4 linked regions of the Homo sapiens genome follow. The protein of the gene in region 1 interacts with the protein of each later gene in a biochemical or structural test. Each region holds a gene or a part of one and is shown in the gene's direction. Other genes may lie near its edges.

Evidence for each region.
Region 2: of the proteins of PRMT6 (region 1) and FBL, one has a biochemical effect on the other in vitro, tested with the Homo sapiens proteins (one study listed by BioGRID).
Region 3: of the proteins of PRMT6 (region 1) and HMGA2, one has a biochemical effect on the other in vitro, tested with the Homo sapiens proteins (one study listed by BioGRID).
Region 4: of the proteins of PRMT6 (region 1) and HMGA1, one has a biochemical effect on the other in vitro, tested with the Homo sapiens proteins (2 studies listed by BioGRID, with this or other methods).

What each region holds. Positions count from the first base shown.
Region 1 is NC_000001.11:107,052,702-107,059,701, forward strand, and holds PRMT6 (protein arginine N-methyltransferase 6), read left to right. Parts: upstream 1-3,972; 5' UTR 3,973-4,014; coding exon 4,015-5,142; 3' UTR 5,143-6,593; downstream 6,594-7,000. UniProt on the Homo sapiens protein: Arginine methyltransferase that can catalyze the formation of both omega-N monomethylarginine (MMA) and asymmetrical dimethylarginine (aDMA), with a strong preference for the formation of aDMA.
Region 2 is NC_000019.10:39,843,360-39,850,653, reverse strand, and holds the start of FBL (rRNA 2'-O-methyltransferase fibrillarin), read left to right. Parts: upstream 1-4,274; 5' UTR 4,275-4,353; coding exon 4,354-4,363; intron 4,364-7,294.
Region 3 is NC_000012.12:65,946,456-65,953,489, forward strand, and holds part of HMGA2 (high mobility group protein HMGI-C), read left to right. Parts: exon of another isoform or gene 1-1,669; intron 1,670-1,979; exon of another isoform or gene 1,980-2,252; intron 2,253-4,927; coding exon 4,928-4,960; intron 4,961-5,900; coding exon of another isoform or gene 5,901-5,975; exon of another isoform or gene 5,976-6,081; intron 6,082-7,034.
Region 4 is NC_000006.12:34,239,873-34,246,731, forward strand, and holds the end of HMGA1 (high mobility group protein HMG-I/HMG-Y), read left to right. Parts: intron 1-800; exon of another isoform or gene 801-864; 5' UTR 865-908; coding exon 909-1,043; intron 1,044-2,839; coding exon 2,840-2,923; intron 2,924-3,595; coding exon 3,596-3,646; intron 3,647-4,958; coding exon 4,959-5,012; 3' UTR 5,013-6,359; downstream 6,360-6,859. UniProt on the Homo sapiens protein: HMG-I/Y bind preferentially to the minor groove of A+T rich regions in double-stranded DNA. It is suggested that these proteins could function in nucleosome phasing and in the 3'-end processing of mRNA transcripts.

The sequences.
Region 1 (7,000 bases):
CAACAATCTGGAATATGGAAAGGTCCAGATTCCAGCACAATGCACTAGGTTCTCAGCATAAAAATGAAAAATACAAAATCTTGGTGTTCAAATGTCCACAGTCCAAAGCCAGATATATAAATAGTTCTGATACAATGATACAAGTGCAAAAAGAGTTATATGTATTAAAGGGCCATAGACTGGCTGAAAAAACATCATTTGAGCATTAGCTAAAAAGATGAGTGAGAGGAGGGAAGAGTAGAGGCACGCAAAGCAAAAGTACAGAAGTCCCAAAATTCATAGTGTTTTTGGAGAACAGTAAGCTGTATATTTCAAACTTTTAACCATAACCTGAAGCAAGAAATATACATACAGTACTTTTTTTAGACGGAGTCTCGCTCTTTCACCAGGCTGGAGTGCAGTGGCACAATCTCTGCTCACTGCAACGTCTGCCTTCCGGGTTCAAGCGATTCTCCTGCCTCAGCTTCCTGAGTAGCTGGGACTACAGGCGCGTGCCACCATGCCCAGCTAATTTTTGTATTTTTAGTAGAGACAGGGTTTCACCATGTTGGCCAGGATGGTCTCGAACTTCTGACCTCGTGATCTGCCTGCCTCGGCCTCCCAAAGTGCCAGGATTACAGGTGTGAGCCACGAAACAAGTTTTATGAAATAATACCCACCTTTACTCATTTGACACATTTAGTATTTTCTGATCTATTATTTCTTCTTAATGGTGGTCAAGTTGCACTAAATTAAAATTTCAAGATCATTTGTTTGAAAAACTGGGTTTGAGCATTGAATAGACGTGGCAAGCAGATCGCTGAAATGAAAATACTAAGAATGCTCTGCCAGCAGAACTCCAACTCTTCTCCCATGCAGGTGGTTTGCTGCTGAGCCGCACGGCTTAGGGAAGGGCTATGATCTAGGTCCCTTTCCTACTTAAAACATCTCACTGTGGTACAAAAGATCAGTAAAGAACTCCTTCTCTATATCAAATAAAAGGGCAGGAAAGGAAAGTGCCACAGACCTTTTTTAATCTGCTCTAGGGATAATGTTTGGTGCTTACCACTATTCTATCTAGAAGCATTAACAGTATTTAAAATTTATACTATTCTCATTTCTGGGAGCATTCCACATTCTATCTATATCTGGATCTATCTCAGAGTTTACCAAGTCACATTGTCACATTGAACTAATGAAGCAAAACTCTCTACATCCACAATAGACTTTGTTCAAGACTATTTATTGAGCACTTTCTATGTGCCAGCTTCTGTTGTAGTGCTAAGGACTGCAATAGTGGGAATACAAAAGTCCAAGTCTCCTGGAGTTGATATTGTATAGAAAACAAATAAATTAATTAAATACATACAGATAATAATGAATGCTGGGAGGGAACAAAATAGTGTCTTGGGTTTGAAAATATTATTTAAGGAAGCCAGGAAAGGCCTTTTTCATGAGGTAACATTTAAGTTGAGACATGAAGGATGAGAAGCCACTAAAGTGAAGTGCTAAGGAGAAAAACAATTTTCTCAGCACCAGAAGAGTATGCATGACGACCTGACACAGGAAAGAAATGTGTTATTAGAAACCAGTATATCTTGAGCCCAATGAAGAGTTGGGAAAAATGGTATGAGATGAGATGGGAAGTTACCTGAAGTTACTGAATTGTTCCATTAACTAACACGGGAAGTTACTGAAGAATGACATGGCCCAATGGGTTTTATAAAAGCTTATTCTTTCAGCTATGTAGAGAAGGGATTAGATAGGGTTGAGATTAGAAGCTGAGCGATCCCTTAGGAGACTAATTTTCAGGCAAGTCAATATGGAAGATTAGACTAGGGTGTTGACAATAGAAATGGAGAAAAGCAGATGGATTCAAGATATATTTTGGAGGTAGAACCAGTGAAACTTATATTCAGAATTTTCTTAAAAGAGACCATAAGGAAGTGAATTGAAAATTGGGTGAAGGAATGAATGTATTTAAAAGGAAAAGGTGACATTTTGAGGAAAGAAAGAATGGCAAAAGTATACACTAAGTAACAACCTATTAATAAAAGTAACATATTAAAGTGGTCACATTTACAACTCTAATCTGATGTCCTACACTGGGCCTCAATTATCTTAAAATAAGATATTAAACCAAGGCAGAAAAAGAGAAGAAATACTTCAAGGTTTTTAGCCTTAAATGGTTGAGCCCAGGCCACTGAAAAAAATACAATTTACCCAATTAAAATAACGAAGCAAGATTTAACTAAGATCATTTTAGTGAGAAACAGTTGTTCTCACCCTGGCTGCCCATTAGAATTCCCTGGGGAGCTTTTAAAAACTAGAAGCCCAGGTTCCACTGGAGTGATTCCGATTTAATTGGTCTGAGGTAGACCCAGGCATCGGTATTTTTTAAAAAGCTCCTTAGAGAATTCTAATAAGCAGCCAGGATGGAGAGTCTTGAGTTAGAAGTAGAGTACAGCTAAGGATGCCATATCAATAAACCTATTCTGCTAATGAAAGATTAATAGAGAAAATAGGATGAAAGAACTTTGATCCCAGACAAGGAATACAGGCCTATTGGTTACAAGGACATAATTCAAGACCACAAGAAAATAAAAATCCATTTTACTCTGAGTGACTTTTTTTTCAAGCTGGCAGAAAATGGCATTATGCCCACCTTGTTAATAACACGGACACCCATACAGATGCCACACATATTTAAAAACATATTTTATTTCCATTATGGACAACAAAAAGAGAGTAACAGCTGATGGTTGACTACAAGAAAAATATAAGAGAAAGAGGAGAGTGTCAATATTGCCCGGACAAGAAAACACAGGAAAAAATGAATTGCATTGAGAAAGTGATTAAAAGAAATTGATTCCGTTATTTCTGAGAGAAAAAAACGCATATATATATAGAATACACCTAGCAACGAGTTTGCTTGTATCACATGGCTCTTGAGTCTGCACTTTTCAGGATTTAACTCTTAAGAGAGCCACAGAATTATCAGAGCAGAGCCGAAAGCCAAGTAACTATTCTTCTAAGTAGAACCAGAAACCTAGTTCTTCCCCAACTGCAATGAAGATTCGCTGGTGGGTGAATGGGCAACTAAAGGCCAGAGAAGTTCTATTATTTGCCCTAAATCACTCAACTAATTAGTGGTCATACTGGAATCAGAACCAAGATTTTGCATTGTTAGGTTTTAATTTTGTTACATTTGCACTCTAACTGCACTGAAAACAGAAAAAAGAAATGCGTAGTGCAGTTTCTAAATTGCCACAGCTGGAGCACTTTAAGAGCTACAATTGTCCAGTTAAGGCGGTAGTGGGTGGATGGTGCTGCCATGTTAATTCGGTGGAATAAAACCAGAGGTGAGTTAGGCCGGGCGCGGTGGCTCACGCTTGTAATCCCAGCACTTTGGGAGGCCGAGGTGGGCGGATCACCTGAGGTCGCGAGTTTGAGACCAGCCTGACCAACAGGGAGAAACCCCGTCTACCAAAAATACAAAATTAGCCGGCCCTGGTGGCATGCGCCCGTAATCCCAGCAACTCGGGAGGCTGAGGCAGGAGAATCGCTTGAACCCAGGAGGCGGAGGTTGCGGTGAGCGGAGATCGCGCCATTGCACTCCAGCCTGGGAAACAAGAGCGAAACTCCCTCTCAAAAAAAACAAAAAACAGAAAAACAAACAAAAAAAACAGAGGTGAGTTCAGCAGAAGAAACAAAGGTGGATTATTAGTCTTAAGTGTGCGTGCCTACTTCAGGAAGGGAGTGAAAGCAAAAAACTGAGGAGCTAAGGGTGGGAGGGGGAATGAAAGGATCTCAGAATGTGGGCGTCGTGGGTGGGAAAAGGGATGCCAGGACACCAGAAGAGCAATACAAAACAGCTCCCGTGAGCAGGCACAGGAGACCTTCCGCGCCGCCGGCCGGGCGACCCCGCAGGAAGTAGGAAGGACGAGCGCGCACTACAAGTCCCAGAAGCCCCCGTTTCCTGGAGCCCGCGCCGTGCCGCGCTACGCCCGCCGGGAGCCGGGCAGAGCGGCCAAGATGTCGCAGCCCAAGAAAAGAAAGCTTGAGTCGGGGGGCGGCGGCGAAGGAGGGGAGGGAACTGAAGAGGAAGATGGCGCGGAGCGGGAGGCGGCCCTGGAGCGACCCCGGAGGACTAAGCGGGAACGGGACCAGCTGTACTACGAGTGCTACTCGGACGTTTCGGTCCACGAGGAGATGATCGCGGACCGCGTCCGCACCGATGCCTACCGCCTGGGTATCCTTCGGAACTGGGCAGCACTGCGAGGCAAGACGGTACTGGACGTGGGCGCGGGCACCGGCATTCTGAGCATCTTCTGTGCCCAGGCCGGGGCCCGGCGCGTGTACGCGGTAGAGGCCAGCGCCATCTGGCAACAGGCCCGGGAGGTGGTGCGGTTCAACGGGCTGGAGGACCGGGTGCACGTCCTGCCGGGACCAGTGGAGACTGTAGAGTTGCCGGAACAGGTGGATGCCATCGTGAGCGAGTGGATGGGCTACGGACTCCTGCACGAGTCCATGCTGAGCTCCGTCCTCCACGCGCGAACCAAGTGGCTGAAGGAGGGCGGTCTTCTCCTGCCGGCCTCCGCCGAGCTCTTCATAGCCCCCATCAGCGACCAGATGCTGGAATGGCGCCTGGGCTTCTGGAGCCAGGTGAAGCAGCACTATGGTGTGGACATGAGCTGCCTGGAGGGCTTCGCCACGCGCTGTCTCATGGGCCACTCGGAGATCGTTGTGCAGGGATTGTCCGGCGAGGACGTGCTGGCCCGGCCGCAGCGCTTTGCTCAGCTAGAGCTCTCCCGCGCCGGCTTGGAGCAGGAGCTGGAGGCCGGAGTGGGCGGGCGCTTCCGCTGCAGCTGCTATGGCTCGGCGCCCATGCATGGCTTTGCCATCTGGTTCCAGGTGACCTTCCCTGGAGGGGAGTCGGAGAAACCCCTGGTGCTGTCCACCTCGCCTTTTCACCCGGCCACTCACTGGAAACAGGCGCTCCTCTACCTGAACGAGCCGGTGCAAGTGGAGCAAGACACGGACGTTTCAGGAGAGATCACGCTGCTGCCCTCCCGGGACAACCCCCGTCGCCTGCGCGTGCTGCTGCGCTACAAAGTGGGAGACCAGGAGGAGAAGACCAAAGACTTTGCCATGGAGGACTGAGCGTTGCCTTTTCTCCCAGCTACCTCCCAAAGCAGCCTGACCTGCGTGGGAGAGGCGTAGCGAGGTCGGAGGGGAAAGGGAGATCCCACGTGCAAGTAGGGGGAATATCTCCCCCTTTTCCCTCATAGCCTCTAGGGAGGGAGAGTGACTTCATTCTCCATTTGAAGAGATTCTTCTGGTGATGTTTACTTAAAAAGTGATCCCCCTCAACAACGGATACAGCGTGCTTATTATTGGGCATTTAGCCTCAAAAGCATGTAGTACCAAGCACTTGTATTTCCGTATATTTTGTTTCGCGGGGGAGTGAGGGGGAAGAACACGGATGAAAATGTCAGTTTTTGAAGGGTCCATGCACATCCCTGACACCTCACACCTTATCTAAGTCTGAAGCTGGGGAGAAAGGGGTTCATTTAGACTTCATACATTTCCAGTACGACTTTAGTATCTCTCCAGAGCCATATTTTCTCAGTCCGAATTAATTCCCCCTCCCTAGGTGCCTGTAGGCTATGGTACTTCTTCCTCATTGTTTTCTAGGTAAACTTCACTACTGGTAATTAAGGGGAAGGATATGAGGAAGCAGTTTAAATAGCCCTGTTCTCATTACTCTGACCACATACATCATAGGGTGCTAAAGTTGATGAACACATTAATCCGTTAAGTAAAATGGACTTTGTAATTGTACAGCATACCTAAGAAACTCAGAAGGTGCATTTAAGAGAGAGACCTGAAAGAAATAGTATGGATTTTTAAAAATTCTTGTCTCTACTATTATAACCAAAAAATATTTCTTGTATGTCCCATAAAAATATTTGTGTAATTCTTATGAAACAGGCTGGTAGAGGAGGTTTCTGAGCCTAGCCCAAGGGCTTATTCATCACCATGGGTAAATTATTTAAACTCACTTAATTAAGGAAAATATTTTCCCAGCTAGAAAAGTATACTCATTCTCATTTAAACTCTCTCATTTGGAGGGATCATGTGAGTTGGCCTACTTACAAGTAGTGAAAGTTCCCTTTTCAGTTTTGTTTTGTTTTGTTTTGTTTTTCTCTTTCACTCAGCCAAATGTGAAAGTTGTGAATTTAGGAAAATCACTTGTAATGAAGTGTGAATCTTGTTATCAAATTTATTTCTCTGATGTTTCCTTCCTTATCCTTGTAGCCAATAAAACATTGACATTCTCACGTTTTATAGATGAGGTAAAAAGTCTTGTGTGCTGTGAGTTATAATGCTTTTGCCTTTTTAATATTATTAGTTCTTAAGTGTTACAGCCCCTTCAGAATATAACTTCAGGACAATTCAAACTATGCTTAATGTATGATTTTCGAGCTTCTGTATGCTAAGAAAATAGGTGTGAAAAACTGGTGTTCTGAAATAGCCTAACATTTATTGTAATTCTGAATTTTCTGCCCTTTTATTCATTGCATATTAAAGTATTAGAGTATAAAAACTAATTTGCTAAACTTTGGTTGTATATAACACAGATCTTCCATCATGGAGAGATATACATGTACAAAATTATCAATTTACAAGATAATTGAGTAGCAAGCAGTACAGTTGTAACCGTCACCATTTTGATGCTAAGATAGTGATCATCTCATGTAAATGCTACAGTCACAGCAAGCTAGACTTAAGCTAGAGGGAAAATAGAGCTCCTTATAAGGTGTTCTATGTTTTAAATCAAATATTTATTTAGAGTTTGAGTGTGTGATTTTGAGTAGGTTTCTGGTGGTTTGGTTTGTTTTTTAAAAAAAACTTGATTTAACAATTCCTTTACTAAGTGATAAATGAGAATATTCTTCCAAATTCTATTTTTTATATATTTGATAAATACTATAGAGTTATCATTATCAGTATAAGC
Region 2 (7,294 bases), on another chromosome or scaffold:
GGTTCAAACGAGTCTTCTGCCTCAGCCTCTGAGTAGCTGGGACTACAGACATGCACCATCACACCCAGATAATTTTTGTATTTTCAGTAGAGATGGGGTTTCACCATGTTGGCCAGGATGGTCTCAAACTGCTGACCTCGTGATCCGCCTGCTTTGGCCTCCCAAAGTGTTGGGATTACAGGCATGAGCCACCGCGCCAAGCCAAAATGGGTGAATTTTATGGTATGTAAATTATACCTTAATAAAGTTTTAAAAATTAATACATGTGTGTTTGTTTGTGTGGGCTGTCTTAAAATACCATAGACTGAATGGTTCCAATAACAGAGATTTATTTCTTACAGCTCTGGAGGCTGGAAAGTCCAAGATCAAGGTGCTGATTGATGTGATTCTCTGTGAGGGCCCTCTTCCTGGGTTGCATCTCTCCCTCTCTCCCTCTTAAAAAGTCACTAATCCTGGCCGGGCACGGTGGCTCACACCTGTAATCCCAGCACTTTGGGAGGCCAAGGTGGGTGGATCACCTGAGGTCAGGAGTTCGAGACCAGCCTGACCAACATGGAGAAACCCCGTCTCTACTAAAAATACAAAATTAGCCGGGCGTGGTGGCTCATGCCTGTAATGCCAGCTACTCTGGAGGCTGAGGCAGGAGAATCGCTTGAACCTGGGAGGTGGAGGTTGCCGTGAGACGAGATCATGTCATTGCACTCCAGCCTGGGCAATAAGAGCAAAACTCTGTCTCAAAAATAATAATAATAATAATAAAGTCACTAATCCCATAATGAGGGTTTACACTCATGACCTCCTCCAACCCTAATCCCTCCCAATGCTGTCACTTCCAAATACCATAACAATGGGGGTGAGAACTTCAACAAGTGAATGTGTGGGGAGACAATTCAGCCCATGGCCATGTGTTATCTATACCATCAACAGGGTGGGAAAAAATGGAGAATGAATAGACTGGGGGCAAGTGATAGGATTGCTGGTCAGCATTAAGCATTTGGGTTTGTAGTCATGAATCAAAACCGAGACCAGCCAGGGTGATTCTGTATTTTTCTCCATCCACATTCAGCTGCCAGGGGTGCAGGTGCAGAATAAATGGAGGGTTGAATTCAGTTCATAGTTTGGAGGTATGCAAAGGTGTGGTAATAATGATGGTGGGGAATCTGGCTAGGTAGTTGAGAGTGGTGTGGCCATGATTGGGGGAGGGATAGCAACAAGTCAGACAGCTTAATGGATGGTTAGGGCTGAAGGCTCACTGGTGCAATCTTTAGAAGGAGTGAGCTGGAGAGACAGGAGGTGACGGGCAGAGCGTGAGATGCATGGAGCTGAGATTCTGTAGGGGCTGTGGTTATGCGGCTGTTGCCATCTAGAATGGGTCCTTCTCCCCCACCAGGCTGGGACCTCTGGGGCTGTCACAGTTATGTGTTGTTGTGTGTTCCCAGCACAAGGTCTAGGTGTGATCATGGGAAAGAAGGGTTGGGTGGAGGACAAGTGCAGTGGGGGAGAGGAGGTCAAGGCACCAAGAGGCCAGAGTGGTAAAAGGATCATTTACCTGAATTTGAAAATCACCAAGAATAATGACAGGAGTGGTGTGGGTGACAGTGAGCCTGAAGCTAAATGACGAGGTGAGCAGAGGTGACTTGGGAGTCAATGGGTCTAGCAGCACAAAGGGGAGCAGGTGCTACAGTGTGACTGTGTAAGCTTCAGACCTAGGGTTCAGGGAGGAGGCAGAGACAATGGTTTAGAAGTGCCAGTGAGGAGCAAGGACGCTCTTCTCCCATCTACAGATCCAGTGGACATGAAGGCCGAGAAGGAGAAAACAGCCCCGCTTGGAAAGGGAGGTCTTCAGGGCAGAGTCCTCCTTAGAGCAAGAAGGTCACAGGAAGGTTCAGAGGGAGTTGAGGAAATGGGGAATATTGGGAAAAGTCCTCAAGGGCTTCGCTATCCCTGCCCTGCCCTGCCTGCCAGTGTCTCCTCCATCCCCCTCCCACCTCTCTGCCTGGGCCTCCCCTATCCTGGCCCTGAGCCCCCTGCCTGGGGCTCCCCAGTCCCATTTCTGCCGGTGCTTCCCCCATTGCCCTCCTACCCCTCTGCCTGTCCCAGCCCTGACCCCTCTGGGCCAACACTGTTTGGGAACCTGTCTGTCTCTCCTATTGGACTGGCAGCTCCAGGAGGACAGGACCCGGGGCTGTTTTAGCCACCATTGTGTCCCCAGCACAAGACCAACAGGCACCTCCACCACTAATTACTTACCGATAGAGCCAATTTCAGGTCTTCAGAGCAAGCTAGCAGGCAAAGTATCTCAGAAGCAGGAGATGGTGCCAGGATTCCAAGAAATAGGGCTGGAATCCCCTAAATCTGCACTGCACTCTGAGTACTTTTGTCCTTTAGAAGAAAAATATTAATTAGAAGGCAAATAGTAAAATCCATGTGAAATAGGTAACATTATCCGGAATTGGACCCACTGGAATCATTGCACATCTAGAAATCCAGAATAGACTCAACTATTTCATCTCATAGTTTTTAAAAAGTTTTTTTTGTTTGGTTTTTGTTTTTGTTTTGGGACAGGGGTGTCGCTCTGTGACCCAGGCTGGAGTGTAGTGGTGCAGTCATGGCTCATTTCAGCCTAGACCTACTGGGCTCAAAGGATCCTCCTGCCTCAGCCTCTTGAGTAGCTGGGACTACAGGTGCAAGCAACCATACCCAGCTAATTTTTTATTTTTTGTAAAGATAAGGTCTCACTCTGTAGCCCAGGCTGGCCTTAAGCTCCTGGGCTCAAGCGATCCTCCTGCCTCGGCCTCCCAAAGTGCCTGGATTACAGGTGTGAGCCACTGCCCCGACCGGTTCTGAAAAGTTTAAGCAGATTTTCCATCATAATATCTAAACAATCTTTCAGGAATGTTTCTGTGCAAATTGGTGGCATTCCACAGCTGGAACACTGTACACAGAGAACTCACAACGGTATGAGGCCATCCATTCATTCAACAAACATTTACTGGGCACCCAGAGGGCTGTCCTAGGCCTAGAGTGATAGAGCAGTGAATGGAACAGAGTCAACATCTAGGCTCTGGACTGGTAGGTTCTTCTGGAGTTTTTCGGTAACTTCTCATAACAGCAGTTGTCTTGCTTTGCAGAATGAATATAGGGATGGATACTGATATTACACAATTACAAAGCCCAAAATTCTTAATACTTAAGCAGAATCTGTTGACCCCTGACGCCGCTCTCTGCCCCCACTCTGATCTGTCCATCCTTTTCTTCTGATTCACGGCAGCAGCCAGTCCTTGGTTTTCCTGCTTTCACCCTCACTCCTGCAGTCTGCTTCCCACATGCAGCCAGAGGGACCTGTGTCAGATCACATTCCTTCTCTGCTTGGAACCCTTCCATGGTTCCATCTTACTGCCTAAGTCCTCACTATGTCCCACAAAGCTCCGCACAATCTGCCCTTGTTAGCTACCCGCCCTTATCTCCTCTTACTCTCCACCTTGCTCACTTTGCCCCACCCACCCTCCTCATTGTCTCTCCAACTTCCCATATCTTTCCTTCCTCAGGGCCTCTGCATCTGCAGATCTTTTCCCTGCCTGGAACTCTCTTCCCCTAGATAGGTGCATGCCTCACTCCTCACTTCCTTCAGCCCTTTAGCTCAAAAGTCTCCTGATGCATTCCTTGACCACCGTGCCAAAAAAACAAAAATCATTTGCCCTCCAAAATCTCTATCCCCTTTCCCTGCTGTTATTTTCTCCAAAGCACTTATCGCTTTCAAACATTCAACATGTTTGGTGTCTATTTCCTCCATTAAAAAGATGAACTCCAGGAGAGTGGAGATTTTTATGTCTCGTACACCGCTGTATTCCCAGCTCCTAGAACAGCACCTGGTACACACGAGGTGCACTGTAAATGTTTTTCGGATGTTTGAATGGAAGCCCAGAGTCGGTCACTGTTCTTGGGGCTGGAAATGTATTGGGGAAGCCTTTTTGGGTGTACAGGGGCCAGAGGGATTTAGCTAGGAATACAAAAGAGGGCACAGCCCGTGCGAAGGCTATGAGCCCTGATTATTGGGGTGCTCGCATTGGGGAAGAGGAAACCGGAAGCGAGTTTAGGGCGACCGCTGCACAGGCAAAGGCTGGGAAGGCAGAGAGCGAGGGCAGCGGGTTGCGTGTCGACAGGCTCGAGAATCCAGGCTCACTGCGCGTGCGCCGAGCTCCGGGCGGGGAAGGGGCCCGGGGGCGGGACTACGGGGTGGCGTCACGCAGCGCACGTCGCCGCGCGCCTGCGCTCTTTTCCACGTGCGAAAGCCCCGGACTCGTGGAGTTGTGAACGCCGCGGACTCCGGAGCCGCACAAACCAGGGCTCGCCATGAAGCCAGGTCAGGCTGGGGTGAGGGTCCGGGGTCAGGGACGGAGGCCGGGCGGGAATCCGGGTGCCAGGCCAGAATCGGAGGGGTGGGGCCTTGGCCTGGGGGCAGGGGTTCTGAGCACGGGTTCCAGTCTCCTGTGGGAAGGGGGATTCTGATTCCAGCAGGTCTAGGGGTTTGTGACTGGCTTCAGAGGTCACGGTCGTGAGTCGAAGAAGGCCGTGGGCCTGGCATTGGGGGTGTTGACGTGGGGTTCGTCTCATTGAGGCCGTCTAATAGGGATTTTGGATATTGGGCAGGAGGCGGCACTCAAGGGTCTTGGGCTAGAGTTTGGATTCAGGCATCTGGAGTCTTGGATCGCTGGGCGTGTTTTGGGAATCAGGCTTGGGTCGGAGATGGAGAGTTCCTGACCTTGGGTCCTGGAGCTGTGTGTGGGAAGCCCCCATTTGCCTTCCCTGTCGCTGCCACCACCACCATCCCCTTATCCCGCATCCCAGCTTTTCCGAGTGGGCCGGAGTGGATGAGGACTCCCCGGTTGGCCGTGTGCGGCGCTCTTCGGCTCACTTTCCCGCCTTCTGCACTTACAGTGGGGCGGATCCCCGGGGATGGAGTGGAGATTTGGGGATTAAGATTTCCACCTCCGGGACGAGACTTAACAAGCTCGGCATTAGTCTGGGGTGGTGGGGCGGGTGGTTGTCACAGGAGGTAAGTAGTTTTATTCTTAAGATTTTCCACTAGATTCTGCTGAAACCACTCCCTTCATGGTGGAATGATGAGGGGGTCCTGGCTTTGACAGCAGAAGGGCCTCAGTTCAGTGTGTCAGCTCTTGCTCAGCTTCTTAGCCTGCTGTGTGAACTTGGGCAAGTGGCTTTACCTCTCTGAGCCTCTGTTTTCTCATCAATAAAATGGCGCCAGTTAGGATTAAGCGACGTTAAAAAAAATAGCACAGTGCTTGACATATAATAGTATTAGCTCTAATTGTTACCTTTATCTTTCTCAAAGAGAACAACATTAGAATCCTTCTCGGTGGTGCCTGAGCACTTCCTCCATCTGGCCTGCCCAACCCGCACTCATCTGTGTGAGAACTTGCTTCATTGAGTTTGGAGAATTTCCACCATGGCCCAAAGGGTCTGTTTTCCTAGTACAGGCTTTCTTTTTCTTTTGTGTGTGTGTTTGTGTGGAGAGATGGGGGTCACCTGGCAGGAGATTTGTGGATCTGTGCCCTTCTCCCAAGTTCCCTTTCTCTTCCGTGTTTGGGGATCTCTTGATGAAGTGGGGTGGGGGATTGTAGGCCAGGTATGCTGAGATCCTGGCTTGCCTGCAGGCATTCTGGTCTGTGATTCCCTCATAAATGGAGGATACCCGTTCTTCCAACCTTCCTCCATGTGTGGTAGAATGTGAAGTTGTAAAAGTTGTCAGGTGTTAGCTCTTTAGTAAGGATTTTAGCCTGAGTGAGAAAAGAACCCTTTGGGAGATTTTTGAGCAGGGGCGTGGTGCAGTCTGACATTTTTAAAAGGGATTCTTTTTGCTTCGATGTGTGAAAGACCTCAGGGTGGCAAAAGTGGAAGCAGGCACATTGGTGGGAAGCTTGTTGCTGTAATCTAGGAGATGGTGTGGTGGACCAGGATGGGAGCAGTGGACATGCTGACAGTTTTACATGCTTTTGAAGACAGAACCAACAGATTGTATGTGGGTGTGTGATCGGAGTCAAGGATAACCAAGGGTTTGGGGGTGTGTAACTGGAAGGATGGAATTGCCATTTTTGAGATGGAGAAGGCTGTGGAAGGAGAGCAGATTTTAAATCAGGGGGTTTATGGACCCCCCTCCCCCCAAAAAAAGAACTTACTGGAAAAGTTTGTGTGAACATGTGTTTTTTCTGAGGACTGGGTACTTTTGGTACATTTTCCCCCAAAAGCTCCAGGACCTGAAACGGATTGAGATGTTTTGAGTATCTGGGATTGAAAGTTTACACTCATGCCCACTCCGCCCCAAGCACATGCCAGTACTTCCTTTCTGTTAGGCCTGGGTTGAGACTTTCATAAGCCTAGCTGTGGCATCTCCCCTAAATGAAGGTCTTGGCTTTGGAAAACTGTTGGAGGGCTTGGGCAAGAAAATTGAGATCTGAGTTGCTGTTTCAAAAACAGCACTTATTAGTTGCTGTGTGGAAAGTGGACTGTAGGGGGAGTAGAACATTAAAAAGTGAACAACTCTTAGTTATGTTCTAGAGTTTTGAAAAGGAAACTTCATTTTAAAAGATCAAATTAGGAGTAGCTATTAAAAGTTACATTTTCATCTTTAATAGAAAGATGAAAAAAGAACTAACTGGAAAAGTTTGTGTGAACATGTGTTTTTTCTGAGGAATGGGTACTTTTGGTACATGAGGAGGGAAGAGGAGACGCGTACCCCTGAGTTTGAATGATGATGTTCAAAGTAGGTGCCAGATAGTATATATGTGATGTGCTCTGTGGGTACAAGTCATTTAATCTTTACAACCCTATAGGATGAGCACTGCATTTTTTTTATTTTTATTTTTTTGATACAGAATCTCTCTCTGTCACCCAGGCTGGAGTGCAGTGGCACCATCTCAGCTCACTGCAACCTCCGCCTGTGTTCAATTGATGCTTGTGCCTCAGCCTTTTGAGTAGCTGGGATTACAGGCATGCGCCACCACGCCCAGCTAATTTTTTGTATTTTTAGTAGAGACAGGGTTTCACTATGTTGGCCAGGCTGGTCTTGAACTCCTGGCCTCAAACTGTCCGCCTGCCTGGGTCTCCCAAAGTGCTGGGATTACAGGCATGAGCTATGGCGCGTGGCCTGGCACTGTATTGTCTCCATGTCTTACAGATGAAGTTTTCAAGACCCCTATGAACCTTCCTTACTAGGGTCGAGAGTGGCAGCAACATTGCCTATCTCTCCATATGCGATACTTGAGGGGAGTGACCG
Region 3 (7,034 bases), on another chromosome or scaffold:
TTACATAATAATCATGTTTGCTTTACCATACATTGTGCCTAATTTTTTTTTAAAAATTAAGTTTGTAAGCTCAATTCAAGCCTCTTTTTATTTAATGTTTAGATTAGTACTAAAATGAACTACTAATGTCTGGGTCCTTTGTTAGCAAGGATTTTCTTTCAATACCTACCAGAAGGAGTGGCTTAGCTGTCTGAGTATCAGCTTTAAAATACCTAGACTTCCTGGAACCATAGATTGTATTCTTAGGAGGGCTGAGGAACTTCTTAATTATTCTGAAATAGGTGGAATGGCAGACCATTTCCTACACAAGTGTCTCTCTACAAAATCTTAAAAATCCAAATACTCTGTGGATTTTAAAAATTCAGTAACTTTTTTTCTTCCATTTGGAGAAATGTTCATTTGCTGTATGACCTCAGAAATCCAAAAATATGTCCTTTCCTTTTGCTTATCTTCTACAGTTTCTTAGCATGTTGTACCCTAAGCTATTTGTATATACTTTAACAATGATATTTATTTGCTTAAGCATTATACTTTCAATTGTGGCTGAGCTAGTCCATTCTAAGGGCTAGACTGCAGAGAACTACTCACTGAAATCCATGTGGTTAGAAAGAGCCCTTTTAAGCTTCACGTGGTATGTTCAACTCATGGGGTCTTTGAATTCTCACCACTTTTTTTTTTTTTTGAGGCAGAGTCTTGCTCCGTCACCCAGGCGGGAGTGCAATGGTGTGATCATAGCTTACTGCAGCCATAACCTCCTAGGCTCAAGCAATCCTCCCACCTCAGTCTCCCGAGTAGCTGGGAGTACAGGCATGCGCCACTATACCTGGCTAATTATTTTTAATAGAGATGAAGTCTTGCTAGGTTGCCCAAGCTGGTCTCGAACTCGTGAGCTCAAACAATCCTCTCAAAGTGCTGAGATTACCGGCATGAGCCACCACACCCGGCCACAGTTTCGTTTTAACATCTGTTAATCCAAAAAATTTCTTCAAAGTCCTTTGGTGATTTTGTCAATGCTGCTATTGATGTTTTGTTCTGGGAGGAAGCTCTCTTTCACCCCATTGTATTTTAGAAGTTTCAATGCAACCATGGAATGAGGATTTTCATTACAAGCTTTTTGAAAGGTGCAATAGTCTCAACATAATGAACTCAAAATCTCAGTGCATTGAAGGGTTTGCATGCCAAGTTGACCAAGTGCCTAAACTGTATAAACTCCCTATGTGCACACTTAGAATTGGATCATCAGATTTGTCTAAACAACTTGAAAGGCTTTGCTATCTGTTCACTGAACAGTCATTATGATGTACACACCTTTAAGAGGGACTCAGCCCCTCCACAACTGATAATGAAGGAAGAATCTCCAAGTGAGGTGAGGCAGCTGGACTTTGCAGGTCTGACTCTTGTCCCCTGCGATTCACTTTTCATCAGCAACCTGGAGGAATCAGAACTAGGCCCTGCTGAACAATCTGGAGATGAAAATCAAAGCCGGGAAGTACAGCTTCTCCTGGATTGGATCTCGATTTGACTTTTTTCTTTTTTCTTTTTTTCAAGGAACAGACTGGGTTTCTTCAGAGCATTATATCAGGGATTAAGAGAATCAGTAGACTCGGGTTGTTTTGGTTTTAGAAAAAGATCTCAGACGATTATTTAAATTCCCTATGCCTTGGTTTCCCTGTGAGAAAATGAAAACAGTAAGGCCTGGACCCTCCCAGTAACAAAGGGGCAGATGTTAAAAATATAAAGGATTCTAGCTTTCATATAGGAAATGCATGTGCAAAATATTACTCATTTATTAAGGTGCATGAAAATTTACTGTTAACAACACAGAAGACTAATATGTATCATTGATGTTATTCAGGTCTTATAAAACTCTAGTGGCCAGTCGTGTTTTTAATGCCAAGAACCCCGAGGAGCAACTGGTTTCTAAGAATCAACACTTAGTTCTGAGCCGAGAGATGCCCCAAGGAAGATAAGAGACTTACAGTTTGTTTGGCGTCCAAAAAGCTTTCCAGACAGCAGTTTGTTTCCTTTCCCTTTTTATGAATGGTGGTAGTATTATGCTTCAGTCTGCGTTTTCTACCAAAGCCATTCATAAAAATAAAAACAAAACAAAATAACAACAACAAAAACTTTCTCGGCACAGTCTGGAGCCATTGGGTGCCAGAGGCTGGGAAAACATCCTGGCAGCCATAACCCCAACCAACATTGAAAGTATTCAAGGGTCTGTTTGTTTGGTGGTCTGAAAAGTATGAAGTGCTGTGTCTGAGGGTAGCTGGTAGAAGTTCCGTGACACGGACTAGGCCGGGAGCCAGGGCTGGCAGAGATTCAGACATTGTCTTTCCCCTCATTGAAGTGTCAGGACCTAATTCATGGAAAATTGGGTGAGCTGGCAGCTCTTTCAGAGGATTTCATTGAGCTGCAGTGTGCAGGAGTCACATGAATGCGGGAGCCTCTGCCAAAAAAGGAGGGGGATTTCTGAGCAGTAGGAACCAGTCAGCCTGCAAGAATGTATGTGGATTTGAAACGGTTTGGGAGTAAACATGTGTACAGGTGTAATCAACAGGGAAAAATGGGAGGAAGATGAGTGCTCTCTTCTTCCAAATGACCCTTTGGAAATGAATCCTCTATTAGCCCACGCTTTTGTGTCCTAAGAGGCAAGAAGTCCTCATCGTTCTTGGTTCGATTTTCCCTGGAGAAAACATCATCTCAAAACTTGGGCTTTTGTGATGACGTCATCTTTACTGTGATTTAAAGTCAAATGGAAGAACGTCTTTTCCTTTGAGCAAAAGTACCTTGCCATTTATTTTATTTTTATTCTGTCCATCTAAAAAAAAAAAGCTCTAATGATTTTTATATGGAATTTTTAATGTACCAGCAATAAACCACTGTACCACTGAGAGGAACTCTGAGAGGAAGGGGCTCTCAGAATGAATGAACAGGGGCTAGTGAATAGTGAACGTATCCTAAGTGCTGTTATTTGGGAGAACTGGTGCAAGAAAGCATGTCGCTATCCACATCAGAGTACCTCAGGTGTACTCACAAATCTCAGCGATGTGTAGATAGAATAATACATGCCTATATTCAGACATGAGAGTGAGGACTGGAAGCAAATAATCCATCGAAAAGCTCAGGCTTCAAATCCATCTTTTATAATGCCAAAGAAATAAGAAGTATTCTCTAATACTCGATTGGAAAGTTAGGCAGGCAGAAAAACATTCCCTCGGATGTTTCACTCAAAAGAGGAGAGTTTTGCTCTACACATACAATAGATACAGATATAACACAATATAACACAATATTCTTCCCATGATACCACGAAGAAACTGAACAAACTCACAGAATTATTTGCAAATCATAAGGGACTTGAATGCAAAACATTAAAAGAACTCTTACAACTTTGTTATGAAGAGATAGCAAATTTTTTTTAAATGGGCAAAGGATTTAAATAAACATTTCTTCCCAGGAGACATATAAATGGCCAATAAGCACATGAAAAGATGCTCAACATCATTAGTTGTGAGAGAAGTTCAAATTGAAACAGCAATGATGTTTAACTTCACATCCACTTGGATGTCTACAAGCAAAAAGACAGGCAATAACAAGCATTGGCATGTATACGGAGCAATTGGAACTCCAGATTCATTGCTGGTGGGACGGACTGCAAAATGGTACAGCTGCTTTAGAAAGCTGTCTGGCAGCTCCTCAAAAAGTGAAACAAAGAATTACAATATGAACCAGCGATTCCACTCCCAGGTACATACCCAAGAATGAAAACATGTTCGCACGAAAACGTGTATATAAATGTTCATAGTAGCATTATTCATAATAGCCAAAGGGTGGAAACACCCCAGATGTCCACCAACTAATGAATGGATAGGTAAAATGTGGTATACCCATACAAGGGAAAATTATTTAGCATGAAAAGGAATGAACTGCTGATGCTACCACATGGATGACCCTAGAAAACCCTAGGCCAGTGAAAGAAGCCACACACAAAAGACTCTACATATATAGTATGATTCCACTTACATGAAATGTCAGGATAGGTAAATTCATAGAGACAGAAAGTAGATTCATGGTCACTTAGGCATGGGAGGTGGCTAGGGACGTGGAGGGTAGTGGGGAGTAACCACTAATGGGTACAAGATTTCTTTTAGAGGAGATGAAAGTGTTCTAAATTAGACTGTGGTGATGGTTGCACAACCCTCTGAATATACTAAAATATACTTTAAATGAGTGAATTATGTGGTATGTAAATTATGTCTCAGTGAAGGTGTTTTAAAAAAATAAAATATTAACAAATTAGGTACCTTCACTCCTCAGTTTTGTGATATATAGGCTAAAAACAAAGTGAATCAAACAGTTAAGTTTCTTTCAAGCTAGTTGGCTTGTATGCCAGAATTTAATTGGGAATTGGAATTGTTTTCACTGAGATAACCTATGTTGTATTTCCTTAATATAGAGAGATCATGAATAGACATTTTTGTTTTTTTTGAGATAGGGTGTTGCTCTGTCACCCAGGCTGGAGTGCAGTGGCATGATCACGGCTCACTGCAGCCTTGACCTTTCTTGGCCCAGGTGATCCTTCCATTTAGGCCTCTGAGTAGCTGGGACTACAGTTGCAACGCCACCACACCCTGTTAATTTTTGTATGTTTGTAGAGAGAGGGTTTCACCATGTTGCCCAGCCTGGTCTACAACTCCTGGGCTCAAGCCATCCGTCCGCCTCTGCCTCCCAAAGCGCTGGGATTATAAGCGTGAGCCACCATGCCTGGCCAAGTATAAACACTTTTAACATTGGATATACCAGTTGAACTTTATACTTTCCTCTTTCCTTTGCAGACAAGTATCTGTATTTAAAATATGTACACCTAATTTTTTCTATAATGTATATTTTCTTTTAAAATATATCTTTTTCTTTTCCTCCTTAGCCACAACAAGTTGTTCAGAAGAAGCCTGCTCAGGTAAGACATAGTCATTAATTTTTTTCTCCCAATTAATATAAAAAGTGAAATATGTACTGAAAAATGTCCCCAAACTAAACCTTATTTCGCATTTTCTTACTTTTGGTTATCGTCCTGCAGTATTCCTGAAAATGTGTTGTAGCCTTCAAAGTTAGGAATATATAGTCTGCAATCGTACCATGAAAACCTCCCAAAATGTAAGGTCTTAAGTGTACAAAGCAAATATAAATTCTTTTAAAAATAAAACTATTTTATTACATTGCCTCATATGTAAAACAAATATTTAATCTTATCCTATATTTTACCAATTCTTAAACATCAAATTTTGTCCTTCCAACTGACTGTCTATATTCTGTTGACACCAGACTTATATTTAATGATTCATGACTGGAAACATATTTCTTCATTGAACAATTTCATAATATTTGATGATCCCAAAACACTCCAAAGAATGCTAGAATACTTGGAAATTAAGTTATACTAACGTGCAGACTGATGCATTCTTAGATCTTATTTAAATAACTGAATCACAGTCTCTGAAGTTTTTGGCAACATCAAATTGGAAAATAGCTCTACGTCTCTTGCCCCATATTCCTGGAGCACCTTGTCCTCACTATAATCTGTACATAGAAACATTAAAAAAACATATTTATTGAGGAAGCATATCTTGAAGAAAACAAAACTGAAGTATAAATTAACCAGGATTGCTAATAATGTGAGCCAGTATTAAAGTATAAGAACGTCCTGCTGTTCTCTTCCCTTCTGTATGTAAATAGTCATTGGAGATCCAGGTGGTATCATGCTGAACCTGCTAAAATAAGTAGTAAGCAGTGTCATGAGCTATCAAATTAAGTAGAACTCTTTCATGTAATTTTAAGTATCCATGAAATTTTTTTCCCTAGAAGTCTTTACAAATCTACCTTGCATCCTGTTTTCTTAGGTCAATGTTGCCTTGCCTGGGAAGGACCACCCGGGCAATCTTATATATCTACTGTTCTCTAAAAATGCCACTTAGAAGAGAATTGAAACTTCCAAACACATGAAAGGATCCAAGGAAAGTGTCTTCAAACAATTACATATGAGCTTTAAGTGGAATAAAAACAGAGTTACCATGAAAAAAATCATTTTCATTGCTGCTCCCATACCTAAAAGCTAAGAGTGGGAGAGGGGTGCTAAAAAAAACCCAGTGTTTGTGCGTCTTTAAGCAATATTTAAAAATATATACATATAAACAAAAACTTGACATTTTCATTAGGAGAACCCAAATATATTTAGCCTCTCATCCTTTAACTGTACAAAAATCAAGAGAAAGTAAATTGATAATTCTGTGCATTTGAGTCAAAGGATGAGGCAGAGTTCACATTTGCATCACAGGCTGTGAACTATAGATTAATCACTTTATGTGGTTTGTTAATATTGATTCAGCCCTTGTGCTTAGTGTCATAGGGAAGATGAGTCAAACAAAGAAAAACAGTCACTGCATCTGAGAAATGTATTTATATGTATATGCCTGTGTCCTATCCAGTGGTATGCTGGAACCAGCCCTTGTGAGCAAATAGTGAACATCTCTTCTGAATTCTGTGTTCAGTGATGTCAAGTAGGTAGCTTGAAATCCACTATGGTGGGAGTATTTACACCATGGAAAGTGACAAATACTACAAATCAGGACTTTTTTTTTTCCTGAGGAGCAAGTAGTTAAACATTTACCTCCCCAGCATGGCCCCACCCTTCAGCGATTCTGTTTATTTGGTCTGGAGATCCATCATATTTTTTATGAACTCCCTAAGTGAGTTTAATATGCAACTAGAGATGAAGACACTCCATGAAAACACATGAGAAGATGTCTGAACATTTGTTGAGCAAATGACCACAGAATGTCAATGTGTATGGGACACACGGGGGATACAGATGAATGAGTGGAATGCCTCAGGTTATCAAGGGGATGATAAGACTGGAATTTTCTTGTTTTGTTTGATTTTGTTGTTGTTGAGTTGCAGAAGGGAAAACTGAAACATAAATTAAGGGAAAGAAATTACAGATGAGATGAATGGCATATAGAAAGGTAGAGAGGCAA
Region 4 (6,859 bases), on another chromosome or scaffold:
AGGATGAGCCCTAAACCTCATCCTAAAGGATGAGGGCCAGCCAGGGTCTGTTAGGCGGTGCATTTCAGTTGGAGAATTCCCTACCCATCTGACAAAGTCCCATCTGACTCCAGTTGGGCAGAGGAGGGGTAAGGGGAAAGAGGAGGGTGGCCTTTGGCTTTGGGCTCACTTTCCTCCCCCACCTCACCCACTAGCTTCAACCATCTCCTCCCTCCCTCAATTATACCAATCTGAATTCTCCAGGGATTTACCCTGGGTGAGAACAGAGAAGAGAGCTGGTGGTGGGCACCACCCCTGGCTGTGTGATTGGCTCTTTTTGGTCCTGAGTCTTGCACCTTGCCAGATAGGCAATATTGTCAGTGAGGTGGGCAGGGGATCAATGTCCATAGCTGCCAGATCGCAAGGTCTCATTCTTTCCATTTTCCCACTGAACTGCGTAGGCTGGATTTTCTCTTAAAGAGAAAGGGCAGCAGTTGACTACAGAAGGAGGGGATGCTGGCAATACGTCAGATCTCACCTCCCCACACCTTTGTCCCAGGGTGGCCTCACCCATGTAGCTAGGTCTGGGCTGGCTGTACCTCCTGGGACCCCCCCCACCACGCTGCACTGGGGCGGTGTTAAGGCAGGACAACAAAGAGCCCTTCTGAACAGGAGATAGATAAGAAGCTGATTAGGGCCAACGGCCCTTCCCCGCCCTTGGCAGCATCTGGGGGTGGGCAGACCCCTCCATCCTGGGCAGAGTAGGAGGCCTGGGGGCCCATGGGAGCACAGTTTTCTGCAGTGTGCCTTGAAGGTGTGGGTGATGAGGGGGTAGAAAGTGGCTGAAGCGAGATGTTTGTCTAAAAGCACTTTTCTGTCTCCCAGCATCCCAGCCATCACTCTTCCACCTGCTCCTTAGAGAAGGGAAGATGAGTGAGTCGAGCTCGAAGTCCAGCCAGCCCTTGGCCTCCAAGCAGGAAAAGGACGGCACTGAGAAGCGGGGCCGGGGCAGGCCGCGCAAGCAGCCTCCGGTGAGTCCCGGGACAGCGCTGGTAGGGAGTCAGGTGGGTGTCCAAACCTTTGCTTCACTTGGTTTACCCTTTGGGGCTAGGGAGGTGCCTGGAGTTTCATTCAGCAGGCGAGACCATGCATGGAGGGTGCAGAATGATTCTGCGCAGTAAGCGTGTGGGTGTGTCCTCCCACCTGTGTGTACTCCTGCCCCACTTGCAACCCTGGTCAGATCTCTATAGAGACCCCAGGAGAGAACCGGGGGCCGAGGAATTCAAGATAAATTCTGAAGCCAATGGCAAACAGTCCAAACCTAAAGCACCCCAGAGGTCACATGGCCAGTGCTTAAAACACTCGCCTTTTTCTTAATTTCCAATCCACTGTGGACCAGTAATTTTAAAATGCAGTAAAGACGAATGAACAAAAATGAACATAGAAGCCCAGGGTTTTTAATCATTAGATTCAGTGCACGTAAAATGATTTTTGTCAATTTGCTGTAAAGTTGCTGAATACTTATGGTCGATTCTTGTACTTCCTCATCCCAGGTGAGAAACGGGTGCCTGCGTGGGCCAGCACCTGTTTGTGCACAGGCCAGTTATGAGTAGTTCTGGAATGGGCATTGCCCCTGGCTCTTTAGATGGAAATTGAAGCCCAAGAAGTCAAAAATGTTGGGGAGTTGGTGGCAGTGACCCTCAGAACCCTGGTGCTGCTCTCCCCACAAAGTCCTCATAGAAGGATGAGGCTGCCAGCCTGGCGCTGTGGGGCACCCTAGGGAGCATGGCCATTTGGGCATGGGGGGGACCCCATATTGGCCTCTTACAGAGGCAGCTGTCACCCAAGTGAAGGGTGGCTGTTGGTGAAGCCCAGTTACTTCCCTTCCCTGGGAGAGAGGTAAGAGGAGTTGAGTTCGACCTCTGCCCCTTAAACATGATACAGGTTGTTCACCTGCAGGTTTTCCCTGTCCGTACGGTGGAGAGTGGTCTGTGCTGACCTGGGCCCAGGGAGACACGAGCTGTGAGGAGTCTGCTGTGTTGGAATTCAGAGCCTGGGGTGGGGTCATTTGTCCTCTTAGCCTAGCTCCCTCAGCCTCCCCTCCTACCCCACCTGTTAGCCATGGTCAGTGGGAGGTGTCAGGAGGGGTGCAGGGTTACTGGACCCTGGTTATAGACAGACCATGGGCGGCCCCCTAGGAAACAGTAGCTGGCGCGCCTTCACCACACACCTTATATGCATTATGCAGCAGCTTTTTATTCTATCTACGGCTTATTAAAATTTCAGTGGGAATGATGGCAGGGATCTCTGGAGTCCGGCTATAATTCCCCTTCTCTGGGGGCAGCCTGGATGGGCTCCAGGTTTGCAAGTGCAGGCAGGGAGTGTGTGTCCAGCATAGGTCATCTGAGAGGGTGGGCAGTGATCATGGCCCAGTGCTAGATAACCATACATTACCCATTTAATCTCCATGACACCCTGCAAGGGAAGTCTTCACCATTTATAGATGAGGAAACTGAGGCTCCAGCATTAAGTGTCCCACCCAAGATAAGTGTCAGAACTGAGACTTGGGCAGAGCCACCTAACTGTCTTTCTGTCCCCAGAATGCCTTTCCTAGGGGTCTTCTGGGCTCTTGTCATTTTGCATCTTAGAAACCTGCAGGGAAGCAAGGGGAGAGGTGGGAGGCACTTTGCAAAGATGCTCAAACTGGAGCTTTGGATCCTGAAGGGATTCCTAGGTCAGGGATGGTTTGTGGTTCTTGGTTCTTGCTGACTTAACCTTGTTGAGGAGGCAGAGGGCTGTGTCTTCTGAGGGGGTGGAAACAGGTGATGACTGTCCCTGACTACCCCCTCTGTCTTTACAGAAGGAGCCCAGCGAAGTGCCAACACCTAAGAGACCTCGGGGCCGACCAAAGGGAAGCAAAAACAAGGGTGCTGCCAAGACCCGGGTGAGACTTGAGATGGGACTACCCCTGGGTGGATGACTAGCAGAGGATCCTCTTGTTGGCACCATGGCCACGGCTGTGGGGAGGTCTGGGAAGGGGCTCAGTCATCTCAGTTGTGTACCCCCTTCCCTGGTACAGGGATGGCAGTGAGTCTTTGCTAACTGGGGAGAGTGGGGCGATGACTAAGGTCTTACTTCTGGGGGGTTGGTCCTGCCCAGGACACTGCGGAGATCAGGTCAGAAGTCCCACAGCTTTCCTGATCTAGAGAAGGGCAGAGTGGGGAGAATGGAGGGTCCCTGCCAGTCCCTGGGCTGAGAATGTTACCTTCTCTTGGGGTTCCCTGGAGCCTGAAGGGGTGGGGACAGGCAGCAAAGGCCAGATTCACAGTGACATTAGCCTTTCAGAAAAGTTGTTTTGTTTTTTATTTTATTTTTTCTAAGACACGACTCATATCCTCTGAGTCATGGGCGGAGGTGGGAGTAGGGGGCGTGTGTGTATGTCGAGGGGGCAAATGTGGCTGGCCAGTCATTGCCAGCTGGACTTGGGTGGGCCTGTTGGGTGAGAGTGTTGGGTCACCCTGAACAGGCAGGTAGGTCTGCCCCCCATCACTATTGGGCATCGGGTGAGCACTGATGAGCATTTTGGACTTAGGAGATATTTTCTCTAACCCTCTAGAAAACCACCACAACTCCAGGAAGGAAACCAAGGGGCAGACCCAAAAAACTGGTAGGTGAAGAAGCAGACTGCTGCTTGCCTCCTGGGCTCTTTTGAGTTGAGGGTGTTGAGTACACAGTACCTGATGCTATGCACCCCCTATGGAAAGGCTCTCCTTGACCTGCTGGGACATCAGATTTTACAGAAGTCCAGAGAGGGGAAGGTACCTGGCCTGGGCTGTGCCCATGAGAAGTGAGGGGTCCCAGGTATAAATCAGACCACATCCCCCTGCCCTGCCCTGCCCTAGTTGTGTGTGGGGGTCCCTCCCTCTCCTGCTCCTAGAATACTCAGAACTTCTAGGGGAGATCTTGGAAGTCATCTAGCCTGTGTCCCCCTCAATTAGAGATGAGGAAAGGAAGCCATAGGGGGAAGGTTTGTCCTTCCTATGAGCCTCTGCAGAAGAGAAACAGCGAAGGAGCTGGGCCCTGGGAGGGGTCGGTGCTGGAGTTCTGATGTGACCCACCACACTGCACTGGAGGGCACCATCCAATTCTGGGTCCCCAAACAGCTGGTGGAAAGGCTCGGTGGGCTGAGTCAAGAAGCTGCCTCTAGGGGGCCACTGCAGTTAGGGTCACCCCAGCCTTCCAGCTCCTGGCCCTCTCCTACCCCCAGCCTGCCCCCTCAAATCCCTGAAGCTGTCATTCCTTGAGCTGAGCCACTGCTGGGGTGGGGGGGTTAGGGGGTGCTGCTGGCCAGGCCCCAAGAGTGAGTAACAGGAAACAAGTTGTTTTGGAGTTTGTGCCTGGCACGGGGGCTGTAGCCCCGTGTGGTGTCCCGACATTCCCGCCCAGTGAGTGAGCCCCGGCGGCACACACTTCCCCTTCCTCCCCACCCCGGCCTAGGGTCAGCCCTCGGCCACCCCGGAGGGCCAGGGCACCACAGCACAGCATCTGCCCCTGTGGGCCAAGGACCTGGTTCCCCTGCACCCACCAGCGGGCTCTTGCACCTTCCAGCCACCCCTTCCCATTTCCTCCCCCAGCCACCTCTTCCCCCACCTCCTCTTCTCCCCTAGGGAGTCAGTCACATCCTGAAGCTCATTGCTGCCCTGAGCTCTGCCCTCCTGCCCTCCCTGGGCCTGGGGGCCAAGGGGGCTTGGCTCCTGGCTCTGGGTGAGAGCAGCATGTGTGTGGGGTTTTTTCCTCCTTTTAAATTCTTTTTATGAATGAAGCCGGGCCGTGGAGGTTGCTGAGTCACCCACACACTCAGCCCTGACTCATCCCTCTTCAGGAGAGCCAGGGAGTGCAGGGAGCGGGTGGGGCCAGCCTCTGGGGGTGGAAGAGGGGGACCGGGCCAGAGCTCACACCAACAACTGCCCACCTCACAGGAGAAGGAGGAAGAGGAGGGCATCTCGCAGGAGTCCTCGGAGGAGGAGCAGTGACCCATGCGTGCCGCCTGCTCCTCACTGGAGGAGCAGCTTCCTTCTGGGACTGGACAGCTTTGCTCCGCTCCCACCGCCCCCACCCCTTCCCCAGGCCCACCATCACCACCGCCTCTGGCCGCCACCCCCATCTTCCACCTGTGCCCTCACCACCACACTACACAGCACACCAGCCGCTGCAGGGCTCCCATGGGCTGAGTGGGGAGCAGTTTTCCCCTGGCCTCAGTTCCCAGCTCCCCCCGCCCACCCACGCATACACACATGCCCTCCTGGACAAGGCTAACATCCCACTTAGCCGCACCCTGCACCTGCTGCGTCCCCACTCCCTTGGTGGTGGGGACATTGCTCTCTGGGCTTTTGGTTTGGGGGCGCCCTCTCTGCTCCTTCACTGTTCCCTCTGGCTTCCCATAGTGGGGCCTGGGAGGGTTCCCCTGGCCTTAAAAGGGGCCCAAGCCCCATCTCATCCTGGCACGCCCTACTCCACTGCCCTGGCAGCAGCAGGTGTGGCCAATGGAGGGGGGTGCTGGCCCCCAGGATTCCCCCAGCCAAACTGTCTTTGTCACCACGTGGGGCTCACTTTTCATCCTTCCCCAACTTCCCTAGTCCCCGTACTAGGTTGGACAGCCCCCTTCGGTTACAGGAAGGCAGGAGGGGTGAGTCCCCTACTCCCTCTTCACTGTGGCCACAGCCCCCTTGCCCTCCGCCTGGGATCTGAGTACATATTGTGGTGATGGAGATGCAGTCACTTATTGTCCAGGTGAGGCCCAAGAGCCCTGTGGCCGCCACCTGAGGTGGGCTGGGGCTGCTCCCCTAACCCTACTTTGCTTCCGCCACTCAGCCATTTCCCCCTCCTCAGATGGGGCACCAATAACAAGGAGCTCACCCTGCCCGCTCCCAACCCCCCTCCTGCTCCTCCCTGCCCCCCAAGGTTCTGGTTCCATTTTTCCTCTGTTCACAAACTACCTCTGGACAGTTGTGTTGTTTTTTGTTCAATGTTCCATTCTTCGACATCCGTCATTGCTGCTGCTACCAGCGCCAAATGTTCATCCTCATTGCCTCCTGTTCTGCCCACGATCCCCTCCCCCAAGATACTCTTTGTGGGGAAGAGGGGCTGGGGCATGGCAGGCTGGGTGACCGACTACCCCAGTCCCAGGGAAGGTGGGGCCCTGCCCCTAGGATGCTGCAGCAGAGTGAGCAAGGGGGCCCAAATCGACCATAAAGGGTGTAGGGGCCACCTCCTCCCCCTGTTCTGTTGGGGAGGGGTAGCCATGATTTGTCCCAGCCTGGGGCTCCCTCTCTGGTTTCCTATTTGCAGTTACTTGAATAAAAAAAATATCCTTTTCTGGACTGGAGTCTCCTGTGGTGTGTGCCCCTAAAGCCTGGGGCAGGTAGGATGGGTGACACTTGTGTTCTGGCCCCCATCCTTCAGGCTGCAGGAAGGGAGGGGAAATAGCACTGGAATCACCTCCGGGGAAGGTCATTTTAAGCCTCTTGATGAAATCAAAACCCCTAGCCACAAAACATTTTATTTACAAAATATATACTGAATACTATACATCTGGCCCCATCACCATGGAAACAACTCCAAAGCCTGCCTGGGGATTTGTGCCCAAGCCCAGCCCAGGAGGGCTAGAGAAAGCAAAGGTGTCTACCAGCCGCCCCCATCCCAGAAGGAAAGCCTCTTCCCATGAGTGCCTGTGGGTGGGCGGTGAGCTCAACACCCACAAAGGGCAGAAGGCCTGGGGGCAGTGAGGTGATGGTGAGGGCATGGGAAGCAGATGCTGCTGAGGGTGGGTGGAGGGAGAAATGGAGACCCAGCACCCAGCAGGGGGAGCCAGGTGACAGCA